4 separate regions of the Homo sapiens genome follow, and all the other regions are linked to region 1. Evidence: fine-mapped expression QTL. A gene starts in region 1. Each other region holds a variant in brackets. All regions are shown on one strand. Distances are from middle to middle. Region 1 holds the start of MAP3K6 (mitogen-activated protein kinase kinase kinase 6). Region 2 overlaps WDTC1 (WD and tetratricopeptide repeats 1). Region 3 overlaps WDTC1 (WD and tetratricopeptide repeats 1). Region 4 overlaps WDTC1 (WD and tetratricopeptide repeats 1).

Evidence for each region. PIP is the estimated chance that this variant, and not a neighbour inherited with it, causes the effect.
Region 2: its variant is the best candidate, but not a certain one, in a credible set for the expression of MAP3K6 in whole blood (TOPMed, PIP 0.65).
Region 3: its variant is the best candidate, but not a certain one, in a credible set for the expression of MAP3K6 in fibroblasts (GENCORD, PIP 0.67).
Region 4: its variant is the best candidate, but not a certain one, in a credible set for the expression of MAP3K6 in whole blood (INTERVAL, PIP 0.79).

The regions. Positions count from the first base shown.
Region 1 is chr1:27,364,393-27,369,538 of GRCh38, forward strand. MAP3K6 (mitogen-activated protein kinase kinase kinase 6) reads right to left here and starts at 2,569. Exons shown (of 29, transcript NM_004672.5): 1 at 1,866-2,569; 2 at 381-520; 3 at 269-292; 4 at 1-2. The coding sequence starts at 2,205. FCN3 (ficolin 3) reads right to left here. Exons shown (of 8, transcript NM_003665.4): 8 at 4,718-5,085. The coding sequence ends at 4,844. RefSeq lists silencers at 1,158-1,227, 1,818-1,867, 1,938-2,157, 2,188-2,297 and enhancers at 1,550-2,493, 2,494-3,435.
Region 2 is chr1:27,307,059-27,312,204 of GRCh38, forward strand. WDTC1 (WD and tetratricopeptide repeats 1) reads left to right here. Exons shown (of 16, transcript NM_001276252.2): 16 at 1-1,578. Among named protein-coding and RNA genes, the nearest start is that of TMEM222, 13 kb to the right of the region's middle. RefSeq lists enhancers at 198-723, 724-1,249, 1,250-1,774. The variant G/A (reference allele first, on the strand shown) is at 2,795.
Region 3 is chr1:27,237,020-27,242,165 of GRCh38, forward strand. The region is part of intron 1 of WDTC1 (WD and tetratricopeptide repeats 1); the gene reads left to right. Among named protein-coding and RNA genes, the nearest start is that of WDTC1, 5.0 kb to the left of the region's middle. The variant C/CA (reference allele first, on the strand shown) is at 2,498.
Region 4 is chr1:27,282,147-27,287,292 of GRCh38, forward strand. It overlaps WDTC1 (WD and tetratricopeptide repeats 1), which reads left to right. Exons shown (of 16, transcript NM_001276252.2): 4 at 93-139; 5 at 1,192-1,303. Among named protein-coding and RNA genes, the nearest start is that of TMEM222, 37 kb to the right of the region's middle. RefSeq lists a silencer at 2,639-2,718 and an enhancer at 4,778-5,146. The variant T/A (reference allele first, on the strand shown) is at 2,620.

The sequences.
Region 1 (5,146 bases):
TCCTGGTGGGAGGGAGGCAGGAATCAGTGAGGTCAGAGGTCAGCACAGGGCTAGACAAGGGGAGTGAGAGCATCAAAGGTCAGCATCAGTGGGAATTGGAATCGCAGGAAAGGGGCACCCGTCATGAGAGGAGGCAACAGGAAACAGAGGAATACTTGGGATGTCAGTGGGGGGTTAGGTGACTGAGGAGGCCAGGGGGATTAGTGGAGGTCAGAGGTCATAGCGGAAGTCAAAGGGCACTTTTGAGTGAGAGGTGGATTCTGCTCACCGAGTTCTTCTGGAAAACATCCTCCTGCAGGAGGCAGACAGTCAGATACTGGTGTTCTGTGTAGGCCTTACCCCAGCCCTGTGCCTGCCTCCACCAGCCCCAGGCCACCTACCCGCAGGGCCTGCAGGTCAGGGAGGTCGGCCTGGGAGCAGAGGAGCACATTGTTGGTCATGCTGAAGCTCTCACGCACACCAAGGTGGTAGAACAGGGAGGGCTGTACCAGCGAGCTGCTCACCTCCAGCACCACCACATCTGCAGGCACAGAGGGGGTGGCGCTGATCCCTGAAGCCCAGCTTGATGGGGAAGGAGCCGGGGTCCATCCTGGCTTGACCTGCCTTGCTGTGGGACTCCAGTAGGGTCTGGTTCTGCTTTGGGCTTCAGTCGGCCCTTTTTAGGGTTCCCCTGGCACTTTCACAGAACTGATCTCTGTAGTGTTGCAGGAGAGGAGTTGGGCTCACTGGGTTGGGACCCTCAGGCCACGGTTCAGAGCCTGTGAGCACCTGGCATGGGGGAAGGGAGGCTGTGGACCAGTTGAGTCTGTTACGGGCCATTTAGGAGGTGGGAGTTGCGCAAACATAGAAGTCCCCTCCCTTTGGTCTTCAGCACAGGCTCTTGAAAGGGGCTACCATCAGTGTGCATAGACAACGCTGTGCCTAAATGTATGTATGTGTATATCTGTGACATGTATAGCTTACTATGTCTGACTGTATCTGTGTGTGTGACAGCGTCTGCTAGGGCCTGCATGAGTCAACATGTATGCGATTTGTGTCTGTCGATAATTGTATCTTTGTGTCCGAGTGGTCGGGTCAGCCTTCATTTTAGGCTACGATTTCATGGACATCCAGGAAGCACAGCTACTGGACTCTAGCATAAGCAAGTAAGTATGGGGGCCGAGCATCCGGGCTGGCTGGAGGGAGGAGTGACTCGCGGGGGAATAGCCTCCTTCTGGCCCCGCCCCTGAGCCATCCTTTCCCGCCCACTTCCCCGCCCCTTCCCCGCCCATTCTTTCTGGGCCGCTGAGGCCACTTAACCTAAGCTCCCTCACCCAGTATCCAGTCCCGTCGGGCCCCTTCGCTTCTCTTTTTGCCTCTCCTAGCCCGATCCTTGGAAATAGTATGCTAGGACTCCTGAACTCCAGCCTCCCGGCCCCTTTCCCTAAGTCCAAGCTCCTCTCCCAGTAATTGTCCTCAAGAGATCCGCGTGACATTCTCCTGAGGGTGAGGCTGAGTTCTCCAACCCCACCCCTGAGACACCACAGCCCCGCGCCGCTCCCCGCCCCGCCCCAGAGTTCCAAAGCCCCTCCCCATCCTTGCCCCGCTGGCTGGGCACCGCTCCGACTGAAGGGTGCCTAAGCCCCAACCTCGAGCCCTAGAGCCGCGCCCGGATCCCTGTCTCGTCCCGAGCCCGGCCGCGCCCCAGATCCCCTAAATCCCACTTTTTTCACGGCCCTGTCCCAAGCCCTTCAGCTTTAGCTCACTTTAAGTCCCCTAGACCCGGTACCCCTCTCGGCCCCTCCCTTGAGCCTTCGAGCCCGGCTTGGTCCCCTCCCAGGACCCTGAGTCCCGCCCGGATCCGGCCCCGCCCCCAGCGCTCTCACCCGCGTTGTAGAAGGCATCCAGAGCCGCGGTGTCGCCTAGCTCCAGCGTCCCGAAGGGCAGGCTGCGCAGCTGCGGGGGCGGCCGCGGCCGGGGGACCTGCGCGCAAGCCTCGCGCAGGCAGCGCAGGGGCAGCGGCTCCGCCTCGGTTCCCTCCCGAGGCTCGAGCCCGGGCTGCGGCTCCCGGGTCAGCACGTAGACCACGCTGAGCGGCCGGCTCCGCGCGCAGCCCCGGCCCGGGGGCGCCGCGAGCTGCCGGCCCCGGCTCAGCGCCACGGCCAGCGGGTCCTGCCAGCAGCTGCCGGCGCGCTCCGCCCCGGACCGGGGACACGGCCCCGCCATGCGGGGGCGCTCAGGCGCGGGGCGCCGCGCACTGGGAACCGGGGGCGGGGCAGGAGCCTGGGCCGGCAGATCAGGAATCTTGGGATCTGGAATCCGTTCGGAATCGGAGAATCTCCCACGGGATCTAGGGATCCGGAATACGGCCTGACGTCCCGTTCCAGGAATCTAAAGTCCAGGGAGAAATCCTAGCTCGGACTTGCAAGGTCCTGAGGTTCTGAAATCCGGGATTGGGTCCCAGGAATCTGGGGCATCCGGTGATCGGCAGCTCAGAGCCACTTGGGGGATCCTGGGAATCGGCTCGGAGGTGCCCGCCACCTGGACTTCTCAAGGGAGCGCCCGCCAACGCTGCCCTGCCTTCACTTGTAGGCTAAGCCCAGCCCTTTCCCGGCCGACCCAGAAAGCTCCACCCTCGGCCCTGGGGCAGAGCCGCTCCCTAGCGGCTTGAGACTCAGCCTCTCCCCTCCCTTCTCTCCCGCCAGAACTTTGGAGACTGGCGGCTTCCGGAACAGCCTGTGCCCCTGTGCACGCCAAAGACTGTGGACTGCTCACAGCAAGTGCACATAAAATGTGTGAGGAGGCCAGGGCTAGGGAAAAGGTTCGATATGCAGGCCCTGCTCTGCAGGTATCTGTTGAATGAATGGCTCTCTAGAGACATCAGGGTGCGCAGAGCATGATGAACAATGGGTGTCCTCCCGGGCCCAGTGAGCGCAGGCAGGGAGGGACTGGGATGGGGGAAACCTACACCCTAGGCCGCTTGCCCGAAAGCCTTCAGTCCTGGAGTGGGACTTGGCATCTGAGCCTTAACTGTCACTAGGGGGCTGCTTTCCCCAGGACCCAACCTGCTGTGGACCCCCGCTGACCTTTGACTTCTAGGCAGAACGTGGCCATGGGACCTGAGAAGCACTTCCTACTCTAAACAACTCTAAACATTTCTTTAGCCACCCCTTGAAGGAGTCAACCCCAGCCCTTTGCACTACAGCAGCTTCTCAGCTTCAAATCCCCAAGAGTCCCCAACTTTCTTGTGTGAATTAATGAGTGAGGCAGCAACCTGGTAGAAGCCTCAGTGGACCCTGAAACCAAGAACTGGGGACTTAAGTTGAATAACTTGTCCAGGATCACTCAGCACATGACAGCAGGGTGCAAACCCAGGACCGCCTGTCAGACTCTTAACTATTTAATTCTGCCACTTACTAGAATGTGGCTTTGGGCAAATAAACTGCTTAAATGCTACTCAATGGCTGTTTCATTGCCCTGTTGCCTTGTGGAAGAAAAAGGTACCTTCCTTGGTTTGACCTTGGATTCGAACTGACACCCAATGAGATAGGCAGGAAGTGGTAGAGTTTGAGAACTTGGCCTGCAACAGAGGCTGGAGTGGAAAACAGACAACTTACAAAGGACAGGCATGGGCAACCGACAGGCTGAGAAAGCTGTGCAATTCCCAGCCAGGGCGGTGGCTCATGCCTGTAATCCCACTTTGGGAGGCCAAGATGAGTGGATCACGAGGTCAGGAGTTCGAGACCAGCCTGGCCAACATGGTGAAACCCCGTCTCTACTAAAAATACAAAAAAAAGTAGCTGGGTGTGGTGGCACCTGCCTGTGATCCCAGCTACTTGGGAGCTGAGGCAGGAGAATCACTTGAACCTGGGAGATGGAGGTTGCGGTGAGTGGAGATCGTGCCATTGCACTCCAGCCTGGGCGGGGCGACAGAGCAAGACTCCATCTCAAAAAAAAAAAAAGCTATGCAATTGTGCAATTCCTGCCACAAAGCCATCCACTTGCAGGACCCAGAGGGCCTCGGGAAATTGTCAATGGATGCTTGGATCTCCTCTAATCCTTCCACTGTATGCCCCTCTGGCTCATTGCACTCCAGCCTGGGCAGGGCGACAGAGCAAGACTCCATCTCAAAAAAAAAAAAAAAAAAAAAGCGGCCGGGCGCAGTGGCTCACACCTGTAATCCCAGCACTTTGGGAGGCCGAGGAGGGCAGATCATGAGGTCAGGAGATTGAGACCATCCTGGCTAACATGATGAAACCCCGTCTCTACTAAAAATACAAAAAATTCGCCGGGCGTGGTAACGGGTGCCTGTAGTTCCAGCTACTCGGGAGGCTGAGGCAGGAGAATGGCGTGAACCTGGGAGGCAGAGCTTGCAGTGAGCCAGGATGGTGCCACTGCACTCCAGCCTGGGCGACAGAGCGAGACTGCGTCTCAAAAACAAACAAACAAACAAACAAACAAAAAAGCTGTGCAATTGTGCAATTCCTGCCACAAAGCCATCCACTTGCAGGACCCAGAGAGCCTCAGGAAATTGTCAATGGATGCTTGAATCTCCTCCAGTCCTTCCACTATATGCCCCTCTGGCCTTGTCTTGCACACCTCCAGAGACAGAAGCCTCACTACTTTAGAGGCTGTCCTTTCCATCTTCCTGACTGGAAGGAAATTCTTCCCTGAATGGAGCTGAAACTTGTGTCCCTGCTCTGCCCTCTAGGGTTTTTTCCCAGTAACTGGAAGAGTCTTGAAAGGGCTAAAATGATTTTATTTTTAAATGTGGACAGGCAAGCAGAGGTGGTTGGCAAAGGCAAGGTGGCTGACGATCCGGAAGCTGTACAGGAGAGATAAGGGCACTGGCTGCCAGAGTGCCCTATCGAAGCATCATCCGAACCCTGCGGTAGGGGTGGCCCACACCACGGCCTGAGGCCCAGTCAATGCCATATTTGTGGGCGGCAGCCTCAGACACTGCATAGCGACCATTGAGATTTGATCGGTAACAGGATGCATACCACCAGGCACCGTGGACAATCACTGCACAGTTGCTGTTGCTTGAATCGTGGTCAGCGTCATAGGTGGTAAAGGGCCTCCCACTGTGGAGGCTCAGGGAATCCCCTAGCAGGGAAGGGATGGAAAGCACCTTGGTGCCCAGCACCACGCCTGGCACCTTTGGAGA
Region 2 (5,146 bases), 57 kb before region 1:
CCCAAGGGCCCTGGCAGAGGGTGGGGCACTGCACCTTACCCCACCCATCCATGCCAGCACTTCTGCACTACGGCCATTCTCCTCTTGGGCGCTCCTCAGCCTCACTGTGACCTTTCTGCCAGAGCTCCCAGCCAGGCCTACTCTGCTGAGGTGGCGCTTCCTGCTAAGGGCCCTTCTCTGCCCTTTCTGCCCTCCTTCCCATCCCACATGCTGAGCCGCCACAAAGACCAAAGAAGTGATGGCTTTTCTCTGTCCCCTGCTGCTCTGAGGGGAGAGGGGTGGGTCTCCTGAGCCACTCAGATGGGAAAGTCCCTTACTCGGCCCCTCCCTCCCCAGCAGCCCCAAGCTTTACACTGGATGCAGCGATCAACCCACCACTCACCAGGCCTCTCCTCCCCTCTGCCCCCGGCTCTTAGCTCCAGCTGCTCCAGGTAGTTGGTTCATCCTTCCCCCTCTCTCCCTCCCTGCTTCCCCTTCAGTGCTTACTTGGCTCCAGCCCTCCAGCTGCAGCCCCTGGGGAAAAGCAGCCTCCCTTCTCCTCTCCCTCCACTCCCTCGCTCCCTCCCTCAGCCCCTGTCTCTGCCAGGTGCCTCCTCTCAGTCAGGCTTCAGAGCAGCCCTGGAGACAGGAGGGCCATGTTAAAAGCTTTTTCACAGTTTTAAGAAGACAAGTGGAGGGTGAGGATAGTGGTGGGGGGTCTGGCACCATCTCATTGCTTTAATCCCAGCAACACAGGTGGCAGCTTCTCCCCCTTCCTTCCCACCCCAGTCCCTCTTCCCACCCCTCTCTTCTAGCTTGGTAATGAAGTATATTTATTGGTGAAGGAAACAGCTGCTGCTGCTTCTCCTGCTGCTGGGACCTGCTCCCCTGTCTCTTCTCCGTGACCTTTCTCTAGCCAGGGAGAAGGGAGAGCAGGAGTATTGGGGCTGGGCCCTGGGGCCCAAGGACCAGCTGGGTCCCCTTTGCTTTCTTGTGTTCCAGCCACCTGCCATTTCCTCCCTGCCTCCCACCCTCCCTCCCTGCCCCCTGTCCTGCTTCCCACCCCCTGCCTGCCCAGCCTGGGCCCTGCAGTGTGGAGAGACACATAAGCCTTACTGTCCTCTGGGGGCAGGAGCCGAGCCTTTTTGTTGCTCCGCTCCCAGGAGAGTGAGGGTGACGCAATTGATTAAAACCATTTTGTTCTAGGTGTGGCTGGTGGCATTTGTGGGGTGCAGATGGGTCTTGGAACCAAAGTGAGGGCACCTGGTCCCTCACCTCTGTAGCTCTATGACTTAGTAACCACACCTCTACTGGACAGAATGAGGCCTGCCTTGAAGGGTCACCGTGAGCAGCGGCCACCCAGCCCAGCAGGGCTGAGTGCAGAGCCCAGCTCTCATGGCTGTGATTTGTAATCATCAGCTTTCACTCTCTGGCTGTTTTCTCATCAGTAAAATAAGGGACTTGGAATCTTAGTGGTTTTTCAAACCATTTTACATTGTGACCCAATATACACATGATTACTTGTAGATATGTGTGTGTGTATATATATATAAAAAAAATGAACAAAAGTTTTACACAATAATATTTACCCTTGCTACATGCAGTGTACTCTGCTTACCCTTCTGTTTTATTAGGGAAAAAAATATGGCTATAACCCACTAAATTGATTTCACATATGCAAGTTTTTGAAGTGCCCTGGATTAGATAATCTCTTAGACTATAGGTTCCTGAACTTTCTTAGCTCACAGCACCATTACCATCTCAGTAATTTTTTCATGGAGCCTCTAAGCCAAAAGAAATAACAGTTCAATTTATTAAGTAGTTAAGTCCAAATCACTTAAAAAGTATTTATGTCCTAACAAGTTAGTTGCCATTTAAAAAATAATACACCTGAATTGGAAGAAACAATATTTATTTCATTCTTTTTTTTTTTTTTTTTTTTTGAGACGGAGTCTTGCTCTGTTGCCCAGGCTGGAGTGCAGTGGCATGATCTCAGCTCACTGCAACCACCGCCTCCCGGGTTCAAGTGATTCTCCTACCTCAGCCTCCCAAGTAGCTGGGATTACAGGCATGTGCCACCATGCCCAGCTATTTTTTTTTTTTTGCATTTTTATTTATTTTTTATTTTTTATTTTTTTTTTGAGACAGTTTCGTTTTTGTCGCCCAGGCTGGAGTGCAATTGTGCAATTGCGGCTCACTGCAACCTCCGCCTCCTGGGTTCAAGCGATTCTCCTGCCTCAGCCTCCCAAGTAGCTGGGATTACAGGTGCCCGCCACCACACCCAGCTAATTTTTTGTATTTTTAGCAGAGATGGGGTTTCACCACCTTGGCCAGGCTGGTCTCAAACTCCTGACCTCAGGTGATCTGCCCGCCTCAACCTCCCAAAGTGCTGGGATTACAGGTGTGAGCCACCGCGCCCAGCCTTCATTCTTAAACAACTGCAATTACTAATGGGATCTATGCTGCCCATTGGGCACTGAACAACTTGTTAAATTTTCTAATCAAAGCAAACACTGCTGCCTTCATTTCCTGTCCCACATTGATTTTCATTTGCTTTTTATCACAGCAACCACTAAAGACCCAGCTTCTTTTTTTTTTTTTTTTTTTTTTTTGAGGCGGAGTCTTGCTCTGTTGCCCAGGCTGGAGTGCAGTGGTGCGATTTCGGCTCACCGCAAGCTCCACCTTCTGAGTTCATGCCATTCTCCTGCCTCAGCCTCCTGAGTAGCTGGGACTACAGGCAGCTGCCACCAGACCTGGCTTATTTTTTATGTTTTTAGTAGAGATGGGGTTTCACCACGTTAGCCAAGATGGTCTC[G/A]CTCTCCTGACCTTGTGGTCCACCCGCCTCGGCCTCCCAAAGTGCTGGGATTACAGGCATGAGCCACTGCGCCCGGCCAAGACCCAGCTTCTTAAAGATGACATCATCAAAAGGATTGTGGCATAATGTAATAATGGAACTGTGAACTACCTTGAGCTAATAGTTCTCTCATTAGCCAAAGATGTTGAATATCTTTCAAAATATCCTACTTTGCCCCCTGTGAATTTGCTGTGGGTGCCCTCAGGCACCTTGATGCACAGTTGGGGAACTATGGTTTAGTCTGTGGGAATAGCAGTTCCACTACTGAAACTACTGAGAGGTCCTGCCGGAAACACAATAGGTGGTATTATAAAACAGATACTGTGGGCTGGTATCATTCCTCTGTGTACCCAAATTAACGTCTGCAGAAGCTTCTTGAAGGCATTTCCAGACCAGACAAAGGAAGGACAATGTTCCAGACCAGGGAGTAGTGCAGAGTCTCAGGTTCCTTCATGAACCCTGAGTGACTCCATCTGGCTGGATTGTAGAGGGTAGACTGGAGGAGCAGTCAAACTGAAGGACTTCCTATGGCTGGTGAGAGACCACAGACTCAATCCTGTAGGCAAGGGAGGCATTGGAAGACTTCACGAGGGTCTCCATTTCATTTGGAGTTGGTACTCCATTTTTTAAAAAATTAATAGCCTTTACTTTCTAGAGCAGTTTTAGGCTTACAGAAAATTGAGCAGATAGTATAATGAGTTTCATATAACCCTCTTTCCCCAGCTCAATTTTCCCAATTATTAACATCTTGCATTAGTGTGTTGTTGTAATTAATGAACCAATATTGATACATTATGATAACTGAAGTCCATAGTTTACATTACGGTTCACTCTTTGTGTTGCAAAGTTCTATGGGTTTTGACAAATGCATGTCTCGTATCCACCATTACATTGTCATACAGAATAGTTTCACTGTTCTAAAAGCACCTTGTCCTCCACGTATTCAGCCCTCATTAGCATCCCCCCAAAAAAGTACTTAGGAATAAATCTAACAACATATGTACAAGGTTTGTATGAGCAAAACTACAAAACTGATAAAAGAAACCAAGGAAGATCAAGTAAATGGAGAGATGGTCCATGTTCACGGATAGGAAAACTCAATATTAGGATGTCAGTTCTTTCCAACTTGATCTATAGCTTCAATGTGATCCTGGTCATAGTCCCAGCAAGTTATTTTGTGAGTATCACCAACTGATCCTAAAGTTTACATGAAAATGTAGCAGACCCAGAATAGTTCCACTGTTCCACCTCCTTCTGCCTCTCCTGGTGCCGTTTGTGTGCTCATTCATTCTGTGCAGACCTGGTGCCTCATTGGTGAAGTAGCAGCTGAGGAGACTCCAGCACTCGTGTGGCTGATGAAAAGCCCAAGGAAGGAGTCAAGACTGAGAATAACAATCTTATTAATTTGAAGGTAATGGGGCAGGATTGTTCCATGGTGCAGTTTAAAATTAAAAGTCATATACCGGCCGGGTATGGTGGCTCACACCTGTAATCCCAGCACTTTGGGAGGCCAAGGTGGGTGGATCACCTGAGGTCTGGAGTTTGAGACCAGCCTGACCAATATGGTGAAACCCCGTCTCTACTAAAAATACAAAAAAATAGCTGGACATGGTGGTATGTGCCTGTAGTCTCAGCTACTTGGGAAGCTGAGGCAGGAGAATTGCTTGAACCCGGGAGGCGGAGGTTGCAGTGAGCCGAGATCGCGCCACTGCCCTCCAGCCTGGGTGACAGAACGAGATGCCATCTCATAAAAGAAAAAAAAAGAGTCATATACCACTTAGTAGAGTAATGAAAGTCTATTGTGAATGACAGAGTTTGTCAGTGAGGCAGATCAGATTCTAATTTGACAGGCAACCAGTCAATGAAACAGACACACCTGCACAGTTGGAAATGGAGGATGAAGATACAATTGATGTGTTTCAGCAACAGACAAGAAGTGTCTACTGAAAAAGGAACCTGCTTCTTTACTCTAGAACTTTGTTCTTATAGACCAAGATTACATTCTCAATTAGAAAACTGCAATTTGGTTCCACCACATCATGACTATTACTATAGTATAGTTTTCTCTATTCTTTTATTTTTCCCTTACCCATTCCCTTATTGTACATAAAATAATGGGTGTATGTTCACAAGCATTTTGCTGTTTTAAATATTAAATGGCCAATGACATCCACTTGATGTCAATCAAAACATATCTGTGGGGAAAAATACCGATTCTTGAAAATTACCTCCCTTTCTCCATCAGTGGCATGCTCATTCAACTCTTATCTTACATTGCAATGTTATTTTGTTCTCACTATTTTAACAAAAAAA
Region 3 (5,146 bases), 130 kb before region 1:
TAGAGATGGGGTTTCACCATCTTGGCCAGGCTGGTCTTGAACTCCTGACCTCGTGATCCACCGACCTCGGCCTCCCAGAGTGCTGGGATTACAGGTGTGAGCCACCGCACCTGGCCTCTCCTTTTATTTTTATTTTTTTGAGATGGGGTCTCACTCTGTTGCCTGGGCTGGTCTCAAACTCCTGAGCTCAAGGGATTCTCGTACCTCTGCCTTCCTAGTAGCTGGGACTACAGACACGGCCTCCGTGACCACTCTCTTCTCTCTTTTTAAAAATTAAGGAATGTTGCTGACATGTGCAGTTCTGAGTCTCAGAGAGGAAGTCAAACAGAACATGTAATCTGGTGATACTTGTGTTTTCTTTGGGTCACTGGTTTAGTTATCTATTCTGTTTCCTTTCTTCTTTCCACCTCACCTTTCCAGATGCTCCACTGTATCTTTAGGCTGCCATTGCAGATTGCTGGGCCCACAAAACCCTTAGGTTGTACTTTCTTAGCTGTCATCTCTTGAAAAGCCAAAGTTCTGGCAGTTGCTATTAGAAACCAGTTCCTGGCTGAGCGCGGTGGCTCACGCCTGTAATCCCAGCACTTTGGGAGGCTGAGGTGGGCAGATCACGAGGTCAGGAGATTGAGACCATCCTGGCTAACACGGTGAAACCCCATCTCTACTAAAAATACAAAAAAAATTAGCCGGGCATGGTGGCACGCGCCTGTAGTCCCAGCTACTCAGGAGGGATTTTCCTACTAAGGCAGGAAAATCGCTTGAACCCAGGAGGTGGAGGTTGCGGTGAGCTGTGATCGTGCCATTGCACTCCAGCCTGGGCAACAAAAGTGAAACTCCATCTCAAAAAAAAAAAAAAGAAAAGAAAAGAAAAAAAAGAAAGAAGCCAGTTCCTTGGTGTAGTTAATTTACTTTGAGAGGTATTTGCCAGTTGGGATATGTCCTAAAAAGTGACTGACATTTTATTCAGGGCCTGGTATATCTTGAGCTCAGTGCTAGCTAGTATTTTTACTTTATCCAGTGTAACCTTCATGACTGTCCTGTGAGGTGAGAATCATTTTCCCTATTATACCTATGAAGAAACAGATTCAGAGAAATTAAGTTATTTGCTTAAGGTCACACAGCAAGTAAGAGGAAGGACTGGAATTCAAACCCAGGTCTCTCTGCTCTGTGATATTGAATTGCCTCTGGGACTGTGACACATGAAGAAGAACTGAAAAGACCAAGGCTAAGAGCCTGGGGGAACATGATACCTCATTCAAATACTTGAAGATTGTCATGGGGAAAGGAAACTGGATGTTCTCTGTGATTCTAGAAGGCATCTCAGGATTAAATGACATAATTTCCAAGAAGGTAGACTTTGGTTTGATAGGAGATAATGTAGCTTTCTAAAAACAAAATGGGCTGCCTTGTGAGGGAGTGAGTTACCCATCATTGCAGATATTCAAGCAGAGAGTTTGCCACATCTTTTTTTTTTCTTTGAGACAGAGTCTTACTTCGTCATCCAGGCTGGAGTGCAGTGGCATGATCTCAGCTCACTGCAACCTCTGCCTCCCAGGTTCAAGTGATTCCCATGCCTCACTTCATCTTCCAGGCTGGAGTGCAGTGGCATGATCTCGGCTCACTGCAACCTCTGCCTCCCAGGTTCAAGTGATTCTCATGCCTCAGCCTCCCAAGTAGCTGGAATTATAGGCATGTACCACCACGCCCATCTAATTTTTGTATTTTTGTAGAGATGGGGTTTCACCATGTTGACCAGACTGGTCTTGAACTCCTGACCTCAGGTGATCCGCCCGCCTCAGCCTCCCAAAGTGCTGGGATTACAGGTGTGAGACACCGCGCCCAGCCCCGGCTAATTTTTTTGTATTTTTATTAGAGACAGGGTTTTGCCATGTTGCCCAGGCTGGTCTTGAACTCCTGAGTTCCACCTGCCTCGGTCTCCCAAAGTGCTAGGATTACAGGCATGAGCCACCGCTCCTGGCTTTTTTTTTTTTTTTTTTTTTATGAGACAGGGTAGATGGGAAGACAGGTGTGTGCCATCACGCCTGGCTAATTTTTTAATTTTTTCATAGAGATGGGGTTTCACTATGTTGCTCAGGCTGGTCTCAAACTCCTGGGCTCAAGCAGTCTGCCTACCTCAGCCTCCCAAAGTCCTGGGAATACAGGTGTGAGCCACCATGCCCAGCCTCCCTGTCTGTTTGATCTGTAAAACCTAACATGGCTTGGCACGGTGGCTCACACCTGTAATCCCAGCACTTTGGGAGGCCTAGGTGGGTGGATTGCTTGAGCCCAGGAGTTTGAGACCAGCCTGAGCAACATAGTGAAACCCAGTCTCTACAAAAAGAAAATTTAAAAATTAGCCAGGTGTGGTAGCATGTGCCTGTATTCCCATCTACCCAGGAATCTGAGGCGGGGGCATCACTTGAGTGCAGGAGGCAGAGGTTGCAGTGAGCCAAGACTGCGCTACTGAACTCCAGCATGGGCAACAGAGACCCTGTCT[C/CA]AAAAAAAAAAAAAAAAAAAAAAAGCCAGTTGTGCAGTGGCTCATGCCTGTAATCCTAGCACTTTGGGAAGCTGATGTGGGCAGAGCTCAGGAGTTGGAGGCCAGCCTGGGCAACATGGCAAACCTGTCTCTACTAAAAATACAAAAAATTAGCCAGCCGTGGTGGTGCACACCTGTAATCCCAGCTACTTGGGAGGCTGAGTCATGAGAATTGCTTGAACCTGGGACGCAGAGGTTGCAGTGAGCCAAGATCGTGTGCACTCCAGCCTGGGGGACAGAGTGAGACTCTGTCTCAAAAAAAAAAAAAAAACCAAAAAAACCCAAAAAAACTAACATGTATTGAATATTTAGTATATACCAGGCACTTGCTAGATACTTTTTCTTTCTTTTTTTAAGACAGAGTTTTGCTCTTATTGCCCAGGCTGGAGTGCACACGATCTCTGCTCACTGCAACCTCCGCCTCCTAGGTTCAAGCAATTCTCCTGCCTCAGCCTTCTGAGTAGCTGAGATTATAGGTGCGCGCCACCATGCCTGGATAATTTTTGTATTTTTTTAGTAGAGATGGGGTTTCACCATGTTGGCCAAGCTGGTCTCGAATTCCTGACCTCAGGTGATCCACTCACCTTGGCCCCCCAAAGTGCTGGGATTACAGGCATGAGCCACCAGGCCCAGCTCTACTTTTTCTATAATGTCTCTTATAATCTTCAGAGCTCCCCTGGAAGGAAGGTATTACCATTATCCCCACTTTACAAATGAGAAACTGAGACTCTAGACTAAAGTTAAGGAATATGCTGGAGGTTACACAACTAGTAGTGTAGGGCTGATATTTGAACCCATGTCTCCTCCTTAGCTCTGTGACCTAGGGCCAATCATGTATCCTCTCAGAGCTATAGTTTCACCTATAAAATGAGGCTTATTGTAGTACCTACTTTTTAGTGGGTTTTTGAGGACTAAATGATGAAATATATCCTTTTTACTAGACCTCACTGATTGCCCTCAAGAGCCAGGGCTTGGATGTAAAGGAATACCACTTAGTTGGCTTCTTCTGGGTAAATTCAGGCCTATGTGTAACTCTGAGAGTTCTAGGGCCCATTCTTTGAGCTATTAAGTAATAGCTGCTGACTCCTTGAAGGGCTTTGTGGCATTGAAGACTAATACCTTAAAAACTTTTAAGCCTGGGCTGGGCGCAGTGGCTCATGCCTGTAATCCCAGAACTTTGGGAGGCTGAGGTGGGCGGATCACAAGGTCAGGAGTTTGAGACCAGCCTGGCCAAGGTGGTGAAACCCTGTCTCTACTAAAAATACAAAAATTAGCCTGGCGTGGTGGCGGGTGTCTGTAGTCCCAGCTACTCAGGAGGCTGCGGCAGGAGAATCGCATGAACTCAGAAGGTGGAGGTTGCAGTGAGTTGAGATCGCAACACTGTACTCCAGCCTGGGTGACAGTGAGACTCCATCTCAAAAAAAAAAAACAAAAAAACTTTAAGCCTGAATAAGGGGAGGATGCAGTCAAAAGGCCAGAGTGTATAGGAGGCAGTGTCAGAGGCCCTGTGCAAAGAAAATTCTCAGCTACTACTGCAGAGCCAGATTTGAGGGTCACCGTTGGCATTTTTGTATTTATTATCTTCTTTTAGGATACAAGGTCACAACTGCTAGAGCTGTAACAGAGCTCAGTGCCAAGAATAATGACCCTTAATCCTCCGTATAGCCATCTGGGGAGGTATTAACCCCATTTTCTTGGAGATGGGGTGGAGAACAGGATCAGACCTTGCCCAGGGAGCTCTCCAGAGGCTGTTGAGGGCAGTGTTTGGATCAGGACTTTTGTACAATTTTGTCCTTATTCATGACCCCCCAAATTCTATAAAACTGCTTATCCTTGAACCTCTTAGGGGGCCTTCCTGAGAATGGGAGCTAGGCATTCATGGTCAGGGAGCTTCATAGTTGAGGCCTGAGTGTTTGGGTGCTGATGGCCTACCTGGTTCCCTTTTGAGTTACACATCTGGATATAACACTACTGTCACTGAGTTAGAAAGGAAACATTTCTAACTTGAATGGTTTAGTTTTCCTTGACCTTGCAGCTAGTAGTAGAGTTACAGGATGAAACTCCAGAGCCTTCTCTACAAGAGATATTTTGAATTGTGGCAGGATTTGTCAGGATGCAAGTTAAAGACTGCAGATGCTTTTAAATAGTGAGAGAGTATAGCATTATCAAAATATGCTCCCTTTTCTCTGTTTCCTTCCACTATCTTAAGGTAATTGTGAGGCCTAAGAGCAGACAGGAAAATTAGCTATGATCACTGGAAAACAAAGTTCTGAAAACATCCAGAAAAAATTTTCACAAAGCTCAAACAAGTGGCTGGGTGTGATGTCTCACACTGTTTTTTTTTGTTTTTTTTTTTTTGAGAGTCTCGCTGTGTCACCCAAGATGGAGTGCAGTGGTGCAATCTTGGCTCACTGCAGCCTCAGGCTCCTGGGTTCAAGCGATTCTCTTGCCTCAGCCTCCTGAGTAGCTAGGATTACAGGCGTGTGCCATCACGCCTGGCTAATTTTTGTATTTTTAGTAGAGACGGGGTTTTACCATGTTGGCCAGGCTGGTCTCCAACTCCTGACCTCCAGTGATCCTCCTGCCTTGGCCTCCCAAAGTGTTGGGATT
Region 4 (5,146 bases), 82 kb before region 1:
TGGTTTACCTGTTCAGTTCCACTTCTTGGTGTTGAGTTCCCCAGGAGAACCCCTAACCAACTCTCTTCCTGTCTCTTCATTTGCTCCCCCAGGGTCACTCAGGATGTGTCAACTGTCTGGAGTGGAATGAGAAAGGAGAGTAAGTATGAGCTAGAGCACCTGAAGGGTGCTGGGGAAGGAAGTAAGGAGGGTGGAACAGCAAGGCTCCTCCTGAGAGGATCCAAGGAAAAGATTGGACCCAAATGAAAAGAGACTGCTGCTGTCTGCCGTTCTTCAGCTTAGCCCATAATTTTCAACACAATTAAACAATCTCAGATAGATGGAAAGTTGGATGACCATCCAAACCCTGTTTTGTTTTGTTTTGTTTTGTTTTAGAGACAGAGTCTCATTCTGTCACCCAGGCTGGAGTGCAATGGCGTGATCTTGGCTCACTGCAACCTCCGCCTTTCAGGTTCAAGCGGTTCTCCTTAATCAGCCTCCCAAGTAACTGGGACTACAGGCATGCGCCACCATGCCTGGCTAATTTTTTGTATTTTTAGTAGAGACGAGGTTTTGCCATGTTGCCCAGGCTGGTCTCAAACTCCTGAGCTCAGGCAATCCACCTGCCTCAGCCTCCCAAAGTGCTAGGATTACAGGCATGAACTACCGCGCCCGGCCCAAAACCCTGTTTTTTTAATAAGCCAATGTGTTTAAGAATGATAGAAATTTCTTGGCCGGGCGTAGTGGCTCACGCCTGTAATCCTAGCACTTTGGGAGGCCGAGGCGGGTGGATCACGAGGTCAGGAGATTGAGACCATCCTGCCTAACACAGTGAAACCCCGTCTCTACAAAAAAACAAAAAATTAGCCGGGTGTGGTGGCGGGCGCCTGTAGTCCCAGCTACTCAGGAGGCTGAGGCAGGAGAATGGCGTGAACCTGGGAGGCGGAGCTTGCAGTGAGCCGAGATCGCGCCACTGCACTTCCAGCCTGGGGGACAGAGCGAGACTCCATTTCAAAAAAAAAAAAAAGAATAATGGAAATTTCTCAGGACAAAATAGAAGAGAATCAGCTGTTTACAAGGCAACCTTAAATTCTGTGACATTTACTGTTCTTCAAATTCTGTAACCTAACTCCTTGTAAACTGAGAACATGGGATGGGGAAAGGGAGCCTAGGAATTTGAGGAGAGATCACAATCCCTCACTCTGCTTTCAGCTTGCTGGCCTCTGGTTCCGATGACCAGCACACGATTGTGTGGGACCCGCTGCACCACAAGAAGCTGCTCTCCATGCACACGGGACACACCGCAAATATCTTCTCTGTCAAGGTGAGCAGGACAAGCCACAGAGCAAGCACAAGCCACAGATCAAGCACAAGAGTGACTGGGCTGTGGCCACGCCATGTTGGTATGTGTGTGTCCCATATACCGTCTAGGGTCACAGACAACCTTATGATCTAAGTATCTGTTGGTGATTCCTGAAACCTCATTTCTCTTCCATGTTCTTCTTCCTCTTTTAGAGCTAAGCGGCCAATTCTAGATGAATTTATCTTTATGTGAATGGTAGTGGTGGGGGTATGGTTCTGAACGTGAACTTAGAGAGCAGGCATACCTGGGTTTGACTCCCTTATCTGCTTCTTGGGCATTGTGTGACCTGGGCAAATCACCTGACCTGTCTGAGCCTGTTTGCTCATCTGTAAAAAAGGAAGCAGCGAAGGAAAATCTCCCAGATTTGTAAACAAATTAATTTTTTTAAAAGGAAATAACAGTCTACAAGGTTGATGTGACAGTTCAATGAGATAATTGATAAAAATAAAGTCTGTGCCCAGTGCTTTTTATCTGTTCTACCCCTTCATAGGAAATGAATATTTTGATTTGTTGGAGGAGGGGAGTTGAGCGGAGGAGAGGTGAGAAGGGGACTTACAAGTGTCTTCAGACCTTTGAAGCTCTGTTGAAGCCCTGGAAATGACATGAGACATGTTTTTTTGTTGTGGAAAACAGACCTAGGACTAGTGGCTGTAAGTCCACAGAATTAAATGTGGGCCTGAGGAAAGAAAGAACTGTCTAATGCTTAGAGCTCTTTGAAAAATGTAGAATGGGCCCCTGGAGGAGATGAGTAAATGTCCTATCCCTGCACTTGTCCACTCGCCAGGTGCTTTATCTCCAAGATTTAAAGTTGGAAGAAATGGCCTGCAAGGAAGGGCCTTTCCAGCTCTGAGATTCTATAATGGATAGATGTGAGAATGAAGTTGTCCTTCGGAAACCCTCACTATTCTAAGAAATATTTTCGTAATTAATATCAAGAGGAATTACAAGATACCTGAACAAGATGATAGCTCCAAACCTACTTGTTTTCCTAAACCCTTTTTTCTTCTCAAGCTATGATTCTCGCCTTTAGAGACAGAACAATGATGATTTACCTCTTATATGACTAACGGAAACTGCTTTCTTCCCCTGCAAAGAGTTTAGGTCCAATTTTAGTCTGCACAGTCAGGCCTGGGGAAGGGGACCTAAGCCATTAGTTTAGCATCAGAGCACAAGACATTGATTTCTAACACCAGAATTTCATAATGGTCTTGATACTCCCTAACGGTAAGACCTTGGGAACGGCACTTACATGCAGACTGTCAGCCTCCTCTTCTATT[T/A]AAAAAAAAAAAAACAACCTGAAAAGGATTCTTCTTTCTTTAGGTAGTGGAAACACTGCAGATGTATATGTATTTAACTCATGCGCTCCCCCTGGTGGTGACTATGGTGTGTGATGCGTGTGGCAGCAGCCACAAGATCATGACAAGGGCTCCCCAGTTTATTTCTGCTGTGCATTGAGTGTATGCCGTCTCTAGACAGGATTAAAGACTACTGGTTGTCCCTAAAATAATTAAATCATGTCTATTTCATCTAGACCTTGGTCTTTTTTTTTTTTTTTTTTTTTTGAGGGTGAGTCTTACTCTGAATGTCGCCCAGGCTGGAGTGCAGTTGGCACAATCTTGGCTCACTGCAACCTCCGCCTCTGGGTTCAAGCGATTCTTGTGCCTCAGCCTCCTAAGTAGCTGGGATTACAGGTGTGCACCACCACACCTGGCAGATTTTTGTATTTTTAGTAGAGATAGGGTTTCACCATGTTGGCCAGGCCAGTTTCGAACTCCTGACCTCAGGTTATCCACCCACCTAAGCCTCCCAAAGTGTTGGGATTACAGGCATGAGCCACAGTGCCTGGCTAGACCTTGTTCTAATGGCCCTTAGAGAAGCCTATGTGGAAAGAGTGAATTGTTGTTCTTTGTGAACATTTAAAGTCAAGTGGGACATCAGCTGTTTCAGTGTAGGACATTGCCCCTCCCCCAACACTACCACTCAGCCTTGTTGTGGGTAGGGAGGAACTTTTCAATTTTAAAAAAAAGATATTTCAATTTTTTGAACTCACACGAGAATTCAACACCACTCCCAAATATTTTTTATCCTCAAAGTTATGTGATAGAACTACATACTTTCTTTCTTGTTTCTTTTCTTTTTTTTTTTTTGAGACAGAGTCTCGCTCTTGTTGCCCAGGCTGGAGTACAGTGGCAAGATCTCGGCTCACCGCTGCCTCAGCCTCCCGAGTAGCTGGGACTACAGGCATACACCACCACACCCGGCTAATTTTTTGTATTTTTAGTAGAGACAGGGTTTCTCCATGTTGGTAAGGCTGATCTTGAATTCCCGACCTCAGGTGATCCACCTGCCTCCGCCTCCCAAAGTGCTGGGATTACAGGTGCGAGCCACAGCGCCCAGCCCAGAACTGCATACTTTCTTTTTTCATTATTTGAAGCTATGGTTGCAGCTGTTTTTTTCTTATCAGATGTCATCTGGAGTATTTTGTTCTTGCCTTTATCAGGATGGTGGTTTTTTTTTTTTTTTTTTTTTTTGAGATGGAGTCTTGTTTGCTCTGTCACCCATGCTGGAGTGCAGTGATGCCATCTCAGCTCACTGCAACCTCCACCTCCCGGCTTCAAGTGATTCTCCTGCTTCAACCTTCCGAGCAGCTGGGATTACAGGTGCACACCACCACATCCGGCTAATTTTTTTTGTAGTAAAGACGGGGTTTCACCATGTTGGCCAGGGTGGTCTCAAACTCCTGACCTCAGGTAATCCGCCTACCTCGGCCCCCCAAAGTGTTGGGATTACAGGTGTGAGCCACGGCACCTGGCCGGTTTTTTTTGTTTTTTTTTTTAATAAATACTGCATAGAGATGTATCCTCTTGATGCTCAGCCCTTCCCTATTGTCCAACATTTGAGCTGTTTCCAATATTTGCTATTATAAGAGGCATCCAAGCATTTCTGACCAGGTCCCTTTTTTCTTTTTGGATTATTTCCTTTTTTTTTTTTTTTTTTTTGAGATGGAGTCTCGCTCTGTTGCCCAGGCTGGAGTGCAGTGGCGTGATCTCAGCTCACTGCAAGCTCTGCCTCCTGGGTTCACACCATCCTCCTGCCTCAGCCTCCCGAGTAGCTGGGACTACAGGCGCACGCCCGGCTAATTTTTTTATATTTTTAGTAGAGACGGGGTTTCACCGTGTTAGCCAGGATGGTCTGGATCTCCTGACCTTGTGATCTGCCCGCCTCAGCCTCCCAAAGTGCTGGGATTATAGGCATGAGCCACCACGCCTGGCCTGGATTATTTCTTGGAAGTGGAAGTTTTGAGTCAAAAACTAGAAATTGTTTTTAATCTTTGTTACTATTACCAGATTGTTTTTCAGAAGCAGTCAAACTAATTTAAAACACTCACTCCCAACAGGGCATTCTGGCTCATGCCTACAATCCCAGCACTTTGGGAGGCCAAGGCAGGTGGATCACCTGAGGTCAGGAGTTCGAGACCAGCCTGGCCAACATGGTGAAACCCTGTCTCTACTAAAAATACAAAAATTAGCTGGGCGTGGTGGTGCACACCTGTAATCCCAGCTACTCAGGAGGCTGACACAGGAGAATCGCTTGAACCCGGGAGGTGGAAGTTGCAGTGAGCCGAGATTGCACCACTGCACTCCAGCCTGGGTGACAGAGCGAGACGCTGTCTCAAAAAAAAAAAACAAAAAAAACCCACACACACCCATTCCCTTAAACACTCAAAGTCTTTTTCACTTCAGGACTAATTTATTACTTAATCTCTAGGTTACTAAGTAGTCATAATGAGGCAAGTAGGGCATG